Linked DNA regions of Homo sapiens: region 2 is linked to region 1. A link means that fine-mapping ties the variant in region 1 to the expression of a gene that starts in the linked region. Tissue or cell type: whole blood. Region 1 holds a variant in brackets; the other region holds the start of a gene. Each region is shown on its reference strand, or each on the opposite one. Region 1 overlaps ZBTB40 (zinc finger and BTB domain containing 40). Region 2 holds the start of SIRT6 (sirtuin 6).

Region 1 (5,000 bases):
AAGGAATCACTTAAAGAAGCTCTGGTGGAACCCCAATCTTAAGAAGTGTTTTTGTGATTTATAACTAATTTAAGCTCTTCTGCTTCAGCTTTCTCTGTCAAGTAAACTGAAAGTGACAGAAGAAAATGACAGTGTGGTCTATCTTGCTGCAGAGAATGAAGCTGAGTTTGGACTCTATCTATAAATGCTGTTTTACCAAGATAATGAAACAGTTCAAAGGACACATTCAATCTAGCTAAAAAGAAAAAGGTCTGAATGAGTAATCGAATGAAATCACTAAAGAGGGAATCAGGAACTTTTAGAGCTATAAGCAACTTACTTAAATTGAGTGCCTGAAATTACACTTAATTTGAAGACTAAGGAGAAAAAAAACAGAAGTTTAATCTTTGTATATTTTCTTTCTCTAAGAAGTTCAAAGGACTTAAAAATTTAAAAACAATTAAATCACAAAATGTAATTCTGAGATTAAAGGTTGTTTCCATTGTGTGTGTGTGTGTGTGTGCGTGCGCACATGTGCAACATAAGATCACTGAGAAAAATAAAATCGAGGATCTAGTCCTCACTGTAAATTCAGGGCTTAGCCATTATATCAGTGGCTTCTAAACGTTTTCTCTCCTGAACACTTAAGTCGCTTCCCACGGTTTTAGGAATTGATGCCACAAAAGTACTCTATCCCTATTCCTTCCTTCCAGATATAAAAGTATTTTTAGCACAAAGTTGAAATCAATAACACCAACAAACATAGTTATCTAGTTGCCTTGAGAAGTCATGCCAGCAGTTTTATGAGGATTTTAGCAGCTAGCTGGTGGGAGAGTAAATTGGTACAACCTTCCTGAAGGGCAATTTGGCAATATATATCAAACGCTTGAAAATTTTTATACTCTTGATTCCAAAATTCCACTTCTTAGAAATTATAGTAAGGGAATAATTTCAGAGGTATGGAAAGATTTATGTGCAAGAATGTTCTTCACAACATCACTTTTAATAGCAAAAAAAAAAAGGATACTAATGCTCAATGATAAAGAAACGAAATCCATATTATAGGTATAGACATGTATTAAGATATTAGGTAAAAAGTCAAGTTAGAAAACCATATGTTCTATATAACCTCATCCTGGGATGACTCAAATGAGAAAGAGGGGAACACATGCTTCAGCCTGTTAGCAGTGTCATCTCTGAGTGGAGAAATCTGAATTTTTTCTTTTTGATTGCTTTCCCCATTTTCTACATATTCCAAATGTACAGTACATTTCTATAAAGAGGAAAGGTGTCATAATAATTACAAAATTTCCTTAACATTTTAATTCTGGATACAGTTGTTTACAGTAAAAACTGAGTCAGAGCAGGAATAGCATATATCCATCTGTCCATCGGTCCATCCGTCCGTCCGTCCATCCATCCATCTGTCCAACTGTCCACCCATCCATCCATCCACCCACCCACACATCCATCCATCCATCCATCCATTTTCCTTATGGCTCCATGTGCAAGGCCCTCAGCAAGCTACCGCGAGGAATGCAACAGGATATGAAACAAGCACCTTGACTTCGAGATGCTTACTATGCAGTATGTATTAAAATACTGCAAAGTATAAAGTGCTATGTGCCACAAAAGCATTTTTTTAAGTGCTATATGAATTCAGGAGGAGGGAGGAGACACTTGACACAGTTACCCTTTTTTCAGTGCCAGTCAGGAATTCCTCCTTGGCTGTTTCCAGGGACTCCATAATAGGTCTCAGCTGTGTTACACACTGTATCAGGTCCTCTTTGTGTTCTAGTAACAGAACAGACAAGGTCTTTCCCTCCTCTGTGCTCCCTGGGGGAGAAAGAGTTAGAGACACACAAGAGAAGCTAGTCAATTTGAAGAAAATGACAGCATGGTTTGTCAAGAGAGATCTAACAGAATAGTAAAGTGATTTTCAGCTTATTCTGAGCACCTGAATGCAGAATCGCTTTTACAGAGGAAAATACTTTATTATTCTGTTTAAACTCTATGAAAGGAAAAATGTTTCATTTATCTGTCGAAACACAAAGCTGCAGAGCCAGCCAGAGGTTAACTTCTGGTTGGCAAGGCCACTGCTTTGTACCTAACCCAAATGAGAGAAACTTCAGCCTTAAAGTGCTGTCAGCGAACCAGTCCAACCTGGGTACTCAAGTCATTGATTTGGATGTGTGGCTTTTTGACGGGCAGGAGAACATTGATGATATTCTCCAACTTCAAGGTGTCAGACTAGTTAACTGTGGGATAGAAATGGAGACTCAAATTTAGTTGGTGTATATTTAACATGCAGCTTCTGGAATTTACATGTGAAACTTATGTGAAAACCACTTAATAACTAAGCCACCAAAGAAACATGTCATTGGAACAAACTTCATAGCATCATCCCAAAATAAAACCCTGCCATTCCAATGCATAGGATCTTCTCCTACCTTTTGGCTGCACTGTGTCTACATCTTCTGGCTTCCTGTCTAATAGTGCTGTTTTTACTGCAGGATTAGAATATTGGTACAGCCTCAACAGGGACACAACAGTTTGAACATCCAGGCTTTCCTCTCTTACTTTACCCAGGATTCTCTGGAATGCTGAATGTCCTCCTTCACCCTCGAAACATTTCACTATCATCTATGGAACAAAAGTACCCAGAAAGATAGATTAGCGAACCACAAGAACCATCC[G/A]CTCCTTGCATTTGGCAAACAAGGTCCTCAACAGTTTGATTCCCGCCAGCTTCTCCTGAAGCTCCTCACCCACTGCACTTTCTTCCCCAGCAGCAGTTCCAACAAGCCCTGCGGTCCCATGCTCCTGCCCCTGTCTTCTGGAGGACTCCAATTCCACGACTCCATGCTCTAACCTTGCTCAGGGGTTACCTCTGCTGGGAGGCCTTTCCTGGCCACAGGCCCTACCTCCTCTTCACTGCTTTTAATTTGACATTTGTCACACTATATTATAATTTTTTTTTTCTCCTACTAGACTTCTTGAAGACAGGAATTATGCTTTCTAGGGCTCTGTATCCGCAGCAAATAGCATAGCCTGGCACACAGTAGGGGCTCAGTGAATTTTTAATAAACTTAATGCACTTCTTACCTAATTATACCTTTCTGAATCTGGCATTTTAAGTATTTCATGGGCAGGGATGTCTGAATTTAAATTTAATGAACTGTCATTTTATTATTTGAGAATGCAATTAAAATCTCACAATTTAGGAAAAAAGAATACCTTAAATCATTTACATTATAAATGACAGACTACTTAAAAAGACACGGGCCTTATTAATTTTAGATATAGTCTGTAACAATTAAGGCTAACAGTGTGTTGGCTTGTAGTTGCCAGCTGTAAGAACATATGACTCACATGTTAATTACCCCGTGTGAATGACTGCTTTCAGCCTGAAGGGGCTTCACAGATTCTTCCCCTAACCAACGTTTATACAACAAGCCTTGCCTCTGGCTTTGTGCCACTTGACCTTTCGGTGGCACTTGGCAGTGCCTCTGTATCACAATTCTCTTCCGATTTCAGCAGCACTGAAGTATGTGGGATAAGAACTTGCCTTCCTGACCACTCCTTTTCAGCCTTTCCCACTGGTTCTTCTTCCAAATCCATAACCATTAACAGCACCTACGACTGGTCTCAATCTTTTATTTTTTTCTCCTTTTATATGCTCCCTTTTGAAAAGCTCTCACATGTATAGCTTTAACTATCACCTTTATGCAAACTTCTCTGAAAAGCAGCTCTAACCCTGCACTATTTCAATCCAGAGCTGCCACACAGATTCTGCTGGACACACCTTGTCCTCCAGAGGTCTCAGGGGCGCATATAAAACCAAACTCATCATCTTGACTCTTCTAGATGCTTCTAAGACATCAACAACCCCAGTGGTAAAATAAACAAAATTAGCATTCCTTTCTTTGGTTTGACAGAACATCTCTCACGCAAATGCGAGGAAGGTCAATTGGAAGGTAAGGTTCACATTTCTGCTTTAGCAATAATGAATTTACTTGAAAAAATCTGGTAACCAAAACTGAATTTCACGTGTACAGTCATATGTATAGGCTTTATGTTTCTACTTGACAAAACTACAATCTACCTTTGATGTTTTTTAGTGTCAAGATTATAAAATAGAAAAATTTTCTCACCAGAGTCTTTAGAGAGCAAAAGGTTAGTTTTCTACACACACACGTCTCCCCACCACACTAAAGGAGCTCATGAATACTGTATCAACACAGCAAAATTTAGCTAGACAGCTGTTATTACAAATTCTGGTAGTAAGTATATGTTTAAGATTTTTATTTAGAGAGATTTTATCTTTCTCCTCTCCTCCCAAATAGAAATTATAAACGAGTTAGACCTTGTGTTTCTTGGCTTTGCTTTAGCTTGCTTCCTAAGCACAGGATGTCTGTATAAAGCTAAATTAAACTTTAAAAGTTTCCTGTGTTTTTCAGTCATCTCCAAAAGTACACATAGACAAAACACAGTTTAATAATCCACATCAACATATCACTAGCGTAAGAAACTTCTGAGAACCTAAGGTAACTCATCTTGTATTTAAAAAATAATAAACAAAAAATGAAGACGTCAGTTGAAAGCTAAATTAAATCAACTTTTCATGCTTTTGTTAGTTGACTTGAAATCTCTTTAAAATGCCTTTTCACTGACAGCAGTAGGGAACCCAAGGCAGGCAGCATCTAAAATGGACCCTAATACCTGACTCTGGGTATTCATGCTGTTGGATTGAACCTCGTGACTTGCTTCTAAGAAGCAGAATATGGTAAAAGTTACAGGATGCTACTTTTGAGGTCAGGCTAGTTTGACTTCCATCTTGCCTGTGTTTTCTCTCTCTGCCCTTGCTCTGTGAGATGCAAGCTGCCATGTTGTGAGCTGCCCTACGGAGACACCCATGTGGCAAAGAACTGGTCTCCAGCCAACAGTCAGGGAGTAAGCTTGGAAGTGGATCTTCTGAAGCCTGCCAATAGCCATGAGAGTGGGCTTAGAAAAAGATACTCCCC
Region 2 (5,524 bases), not on the chromosome of region 1:
TCACCCATCTACCAAACCACCAATCCACCTATTCGCCCCCCATCCATCCACCCACCCATCCATTCATCTACCCCTCCACCGGTGCCCATTCACTCACTACCTACCCTTTTTTCTTCTACCTCTGACTGGAGGATTCAATCACACCCAAAGCAGGGGGTAATAAGACACCCAACAGAGGAGTTCACAGGCTGCTTGGGAGAAGACAATCCGTGGGCTTGGGGGAGGGAGAAACGCCTGCTAAATTTAGGAAGCTGCTTGCTGGAAGAGGTGATGGTAAATAAGAAGGGCCTGATGGCCGGGTGGGATGTTGAGCACCTGCCTTGGAGGAAGCTAGGCAGGGCACAGGCCGGCAAGTGGGAAGTGCGTGGGTGAACGAGTGCATGTGTGTGTCAGGGTACCTGGGTAGCTCCGCAGCCTGGCTAGGACTCAGCACGGCTTCTTTCTCCCACATACAAGGGCTCAGGGGCCTGGGGCCATAAGGGGATCCTCCGTCCTGGGCCTCTCCCACCTCCTTCCTCCCCTACCTCCTGCAGCTCCAGTGCCCCGAGCTCCCGGCCACAGTGCCCACTGCCGGCTCCGGTTACCCACTCCCAGCTGGGCCACGAGCAGCTCCAGCCGCTCCACTCTGACACCTGATCGGCTCTGAGCAGGCGGCCGCCCCAGGGGGCCGGGGATGAGCCGAGGGAGGAGACAGGCTGGCAGCGGACTGCCTGTTGGCCAACTGGCTCTGGCGGGAAGACACCCACGATCTTCCCTATCATCACTGGACTGATTTCAGTTTCTGGAAGGAGCCATGCTCTTCCTCTTTCTCAGCCTTTGCACTTGCTGTTCCCCCCACCAGGAACATTCTTTCTGTACTTCATGTCACCCCAACCGGCTCTACCTGACTCATGCACTCTTTATTTATTTATTTATTTATTTTTGAGACGGAGTTTCATGCTTGTTGCCCAGGCTGGAGTGCAATGGCGCGATCTCCGGCTCACCGCAATCTCCGCCTCCTGGGTTCAAGCAATTCTCCTGCCTCAGCCTCCCGAGCAGCTGCGATTACAGGCCACCACACCCAGCTAATTTTGTATTTTTAGTAGAGACGGGGTTTCTCCATGTTGGTCAGGGTGGTCTCGAACTCCCAATCTCAGGTGATCCACCTGCCTTGGCCTCCCAAAGTGCTGGGATTACAGGTGTGAGCCACTGCGCCCGGCTCACTCACTTTTTAGATCTTTGCTGCAACATCCCCTCCTCCAGGAAGCCCTCCCGGATGCCCCCAGCCTGGGTCAGGTGCCTCCTGTGAGCCCCCTCACTGCCCTGTGCCCTCTGCATCACCCATTGCACCCCAACCACACCATGTCACCATTACCTGGTCACATGTTTGTGTCCACCCGCAGCCACCAGGGCATAGATGGTACCACCTTTGCTCTCCAGTGTGCCCAGTACAAAGTAGGTACTCAACACATGATTCTTAAATGAGTCCTCCAGGCCACCAGCCCCATTGACCTTGAGCAGGACCTGTCCTGCAGAATGCAGAACCTCCAGTTGGATGATACTCAGATAACTTGGCCGGACGCAGTGGCTCACGCCTGTAATCCCAGCACTTTGGGAGGCCGAGGCGGTCAGATCACCTGAGGTCAGGAGTTCGGGACCAGCCTGACCAACATGGAGAAACCCCGTCTCTACTAAAAAATACAAAAATTTGCTGGGTGTGGTGGCGGGCGCCTGTAATCCCAGCTACTAGGGAGGCTGAGGCAGGAGAATCGCTTGAACCCAAGAGGCGGAGGTTGCAGTGAACCGAGATTGCGCCACTGCACTCCAGCCTGGGCAACAGAGCGAGGCTCCGTCACACACACACACACACACACACACACACACACAAATGAGATATTCAGGTAACTCTGCGTGGCATTCAAAACCCTTAGGCTGGGGTCCCTGCTGTCCGGCTCTGTCCTTACGGAATTTACTAATCCGTAAAAGGGGTTGTGGGGACATGGATAGCCTGTGTCCCGCATTTTAGAGGTGACTGGAGAACTCTCACGTAGGCGGCCGCCCCAATTTCCCGCCCGGGTCATCGGGGAGCCCCTTCCCAAGCCCCGCAAACACCTGCATGCAAAGAGGCAGGCTTCCTTCTGACAGCAGATAACATGTCGCCTGCGGCGTCAGCAAGAGGCGCATGCGCCTTGCCGTGGGAGGCCGGGTGCGCAGGACTGGAACGCGGTTCCTCCTTCTTCCCCGCCCCGCCCCGCTTCCGGCGGAAGCGGCCTCAACAAGGGAAACTTTATTGTTCCCGTGGGGCAGTCGAGGATGTCGGTGAATTACGCGGCGGGGCTGTCGCCGTACGCGGACAAGGGCAAGTGCGGCCTCCCGGAGGTGAGCGCGTCTGAGGGTCCCGAGCATCGCGCCCCAGGGCCGCGGGCTGGGAGCGGCCGGATGGCAGGGGGGCATTGTGGGAATATCAGGGGGCACTGAGGCTAGACAATGGGAGGGACTTCCCAGTGAGGAAGGGGCGGGAAGTGACGCCCCTGCGCGCCGGGGGACGCCAACACGCCCAACTCTGTGGTCACCCTGTCGGGGCTGATCGGGGAGAGAGGGGATGTAGTTCCAGGAAGAGGGGACGACAGGCGCAAAGGGAGGTGGGAATAAACACACCTGGAGAACGATTAGGCCTGGGAGGTTTCCAGAGCCGGGCCAGGACGGGGCTCAAATGCCAGGCTGGGGAGTTGGCACTTTATCCTGAGGGTGATGGGGAAGGGTTTTGCCCTGGCGAGGGGACTGGACAGAATGTGCCAGAAAGATCCCTCCAGCCACTCAGAGGGGAAGTGGAGGGATCGGCTGCCCCCTCCACGCACTGTGGGACTTTGGGGAAGTCACTTCCCTTTTGGGTCTCCATCTCCAAACTTTCTGCAAACGAGGTGAAGATGGCCCCATTCCATAAGGCTGGCCCATGCATTCTGACTCATGCATTTAATGAGCGCTGATGGTGTGCGCCCGTCCAGAAGCCCCACTCTTCACTGCTGCTGTTAGTCACTTTATTATTATTATTATTATATTTTTGAGATGGAGTTTCTCTGTCGCCCAGGCTGGAGTGCAGTGGCGCGATCTCGGCTCACTGCAACCTCCGCCTCCTAGGTTCAAGCGATTCTCCTGCCTCAGCCTCCTGAGTAGAGTAGATGAGACTACAGGCACCTGCCACCACGCCTGGCTAATTTTTGTATTTTTAGTAGAGGCGGGGTTTCACCATGTTGGCCAGTCTGCTCTTGAACTCTTGATCTCAAGTGATCCACCCACCTTGGCTTCCCAAAGTGCTGGGATTATAGGCGTGAGCCACCATACCCGGCCTGTTAGTCACTTTATTCCACCAACATTTATAGAGCACTTACTGTAGCTCAGGCACTTTCTAGGTACTAAGGCCACAGCCAGGAGCAACACAGATTAAAAACCCCTCCTTCTAGTAAGGGAGACTGACTAGGGGTTGCATGGAAACCAGTTGGCCAAGGGAGGCATCACTGTCACTGAAGTGACATCTAAGCCACAAGTTACAGGAGGTGAGGGAGGGAGCCATGTGGGTATCTGGGGGAAGAGCATTAAAGGGTGTGGCCCTGAGGCGGGACTGTGCCTGGTGTGATAGAGGAACAAGGAGGAGACCTGTGTGGCTGGAGCAGAGTGAGGCAGGGAGAGGGAGGAGAAGAGGGCAGGGAGGGGGCAAGGGAGGTAGTGCAGGGCCTGGTGGGCCGTGGGAAGGGCTAGGGCTTTGACAAGGCAGGTGGGAGGCATGGAAGGTTGTAGGAAGAGGAGGGGCATGAGGACAAGCTGCCTTTTCCAATCCATTTTCCTCCCTCAGGCAAGACAGGGACAGCTCAGTCTGTGGCTCGTGCGTGGCCTTGCCACTTGGGGGAACTGTTTTGACCCCTCCGTCTGCTCTCTCCCCCCACAGATCTTCGACCCCCCGGAGGAGCTGGAGCGGAAGGTGTGGGAACTGGCGAGGCTGGTCTGGCAGTCTTCCAGTGTGGTGTTCCACACGGGTGCCGGCATCAGCACTGCCTCTGGCATCCCCGACTTCAGGTCTGTGATTGTGCAGGGGAAGTCGAGGCAAGGCCTACCAGGCTGCCAGAGGCTTCCCTGCGAGCCACACACATCTGGGAATGAGAACACATCCATCTGCTTTCCTCCTGGATGTGTCCTGGGTACTCCCTTTAAGATGTGTCCCTTGGCTGGGCATGGTGGATCACAAGGTCAAGAATTCCAGACCAGCCTGGCCAATATGGTGAATCCCTGTCTCTACTAAAAATACAAAAATTAGCCAGTTGTGGTGGCACACATCTGTAGTCCCAGCTACTCGGGAGGCTGAGGCAGGAGAATTGCTTGAACCTGGGAGGTGGAGGCAGTGAGCCGAGATTGCACCACTGCACTCCAGCCTGGGCGACAGAGTGAGGCTCCGTCTAAAAACAAAACAAAAAGATGTGTCCCTTGTCACAACCAGCATTCCACTCACCTCATTGGCCAGAACACGGTCACCTGATCACACCTGGCTGCAAGGGTTGCTGGGAAATGTAGTCTTTCATATTTGCAAGCGTAGCCAGGTGTGGTGGCAGGCACCTGTAATCGCAGCTACTTGGAAGGCCGAGGTGGGAGAATCGCTTGAACCCGGGAGGCAGAGGTTGCAGTCAGCCAGGATCATGCCATTGTACTCCAGCCTGGGCAACAGAGCCAGACTCCATCTCAAAAAAAAAAAAAAAAAAAAAAAAAAAAAGCCAAGGCGTGAATTTCTCCTCCTTCTCCTCTTCCATAACCTGCTGTGGCTCCCCATTGCCAGGCAGTGTAGAGTTCTGAATACCTTGTGCTGGAAGCTGAAGCCCTTCCTGCCCCAGCCCTGAATCACCTCTCCAACTTCAGCCCCTCCTGCTCCTGCTGCAGCCCCCAAAACACTTGCATTTTCTCCTAAACTCATGGGCTCTTCCCAGCACCCAGGCCTTTGTTTACCCCTTCTGTCTGATCTTCCCTCTCACCCTTCAAGAAACTGCTTAGCCTCCTCCAGGAAGCCCTTCCACGTGCCCCAGGGCCCCCACCTCCACGGGGCTTCCCCAGGCCCAGGTACCTCCTCTGATCCAGGCTTGACTCTTGGGGCCAGAGGATCTGTGTCCACCTGTCTCCCCCAAGATCAAGGGCTTCTGGAGGGCAGGGCTTGGGCCCATGTGAGCATCGTCGGGCTCATTGCAGCAGCAGTGTTGGTTGAATAGAATAAGTCATTTTTGCCTTCGTGTGAATTCATCTCTCTCTCTCTGCCTCTCCCTCTCTCTGTCTCTCTCCAATTCTGTCTCTGACTTGCTTTGTCTTTAACTCTTTATCTCTCTGTCTGTGTCTTGTTCTATCCCCCTCTCCCTGTTCTTGCAACTCACCCTCTATTTCTGTTTCTGATTCCCTCTCTCTGTCTCCCTGTCTCTCTCTGTCTCCTGATTTTCTCTCTCTCCAACTTTCTCTCTATACCTCTCTGATTCTCCCTCTGTCTCTTTTTCTGTTCCCCTCTCCCCGTCCATCT

Evidence for each region. PIP is the estimated chance that this variant, and not a neighbour inherited with it, causes the effect. A credible set is the group of variants that fine-mapping cannot tell apart.
Region 2: it holds the start of SIRT6, and the variant in region 1 is the best candidate, but not a certain one, in a credible set for the expression of SIRT6 in whole blood (TOPMed, PIP 0.85).

The regions. Positions count from the first base shown.
Region 1 is chr1:22,499,114-22,504,113 of GRCh38, reverse strand. It overlaps ZBTB40 (zinc finger and BTB domain containing 40), which reads right to left. Exons shown (of 18, transcript NM_014870.4): 4 at 2,430-2,622; 5 at 1,673-1,815. Among named protein-coding and RNA genes, the nearest start is that of ZBTB40, 50 kb to the right of the region's middle. The variant G/A (reference allele first, on the strand shown) is at 2,676.
Region 2 is chr19:4,179,308-4,184,831 of GRCh38, reverse strand. It overlaps SIRT6 (sirtuin 6), which reads left to right and starts at 2,269. Exons shown (of 8, transcript NM_016539.4): 1 at 2,269-2,358; 2 at 3,923-4,050. The coding sequence starts at 2,293. ANKRD24 (ankyrin repeat domain 24) reads right to left here and starts at 2,143. Exons shown (of 22, transcript NM_001393985.1): 1 at 2,092-2,143. RefSeq lists enhancers at 2,086-2,135, 2,206-2,295.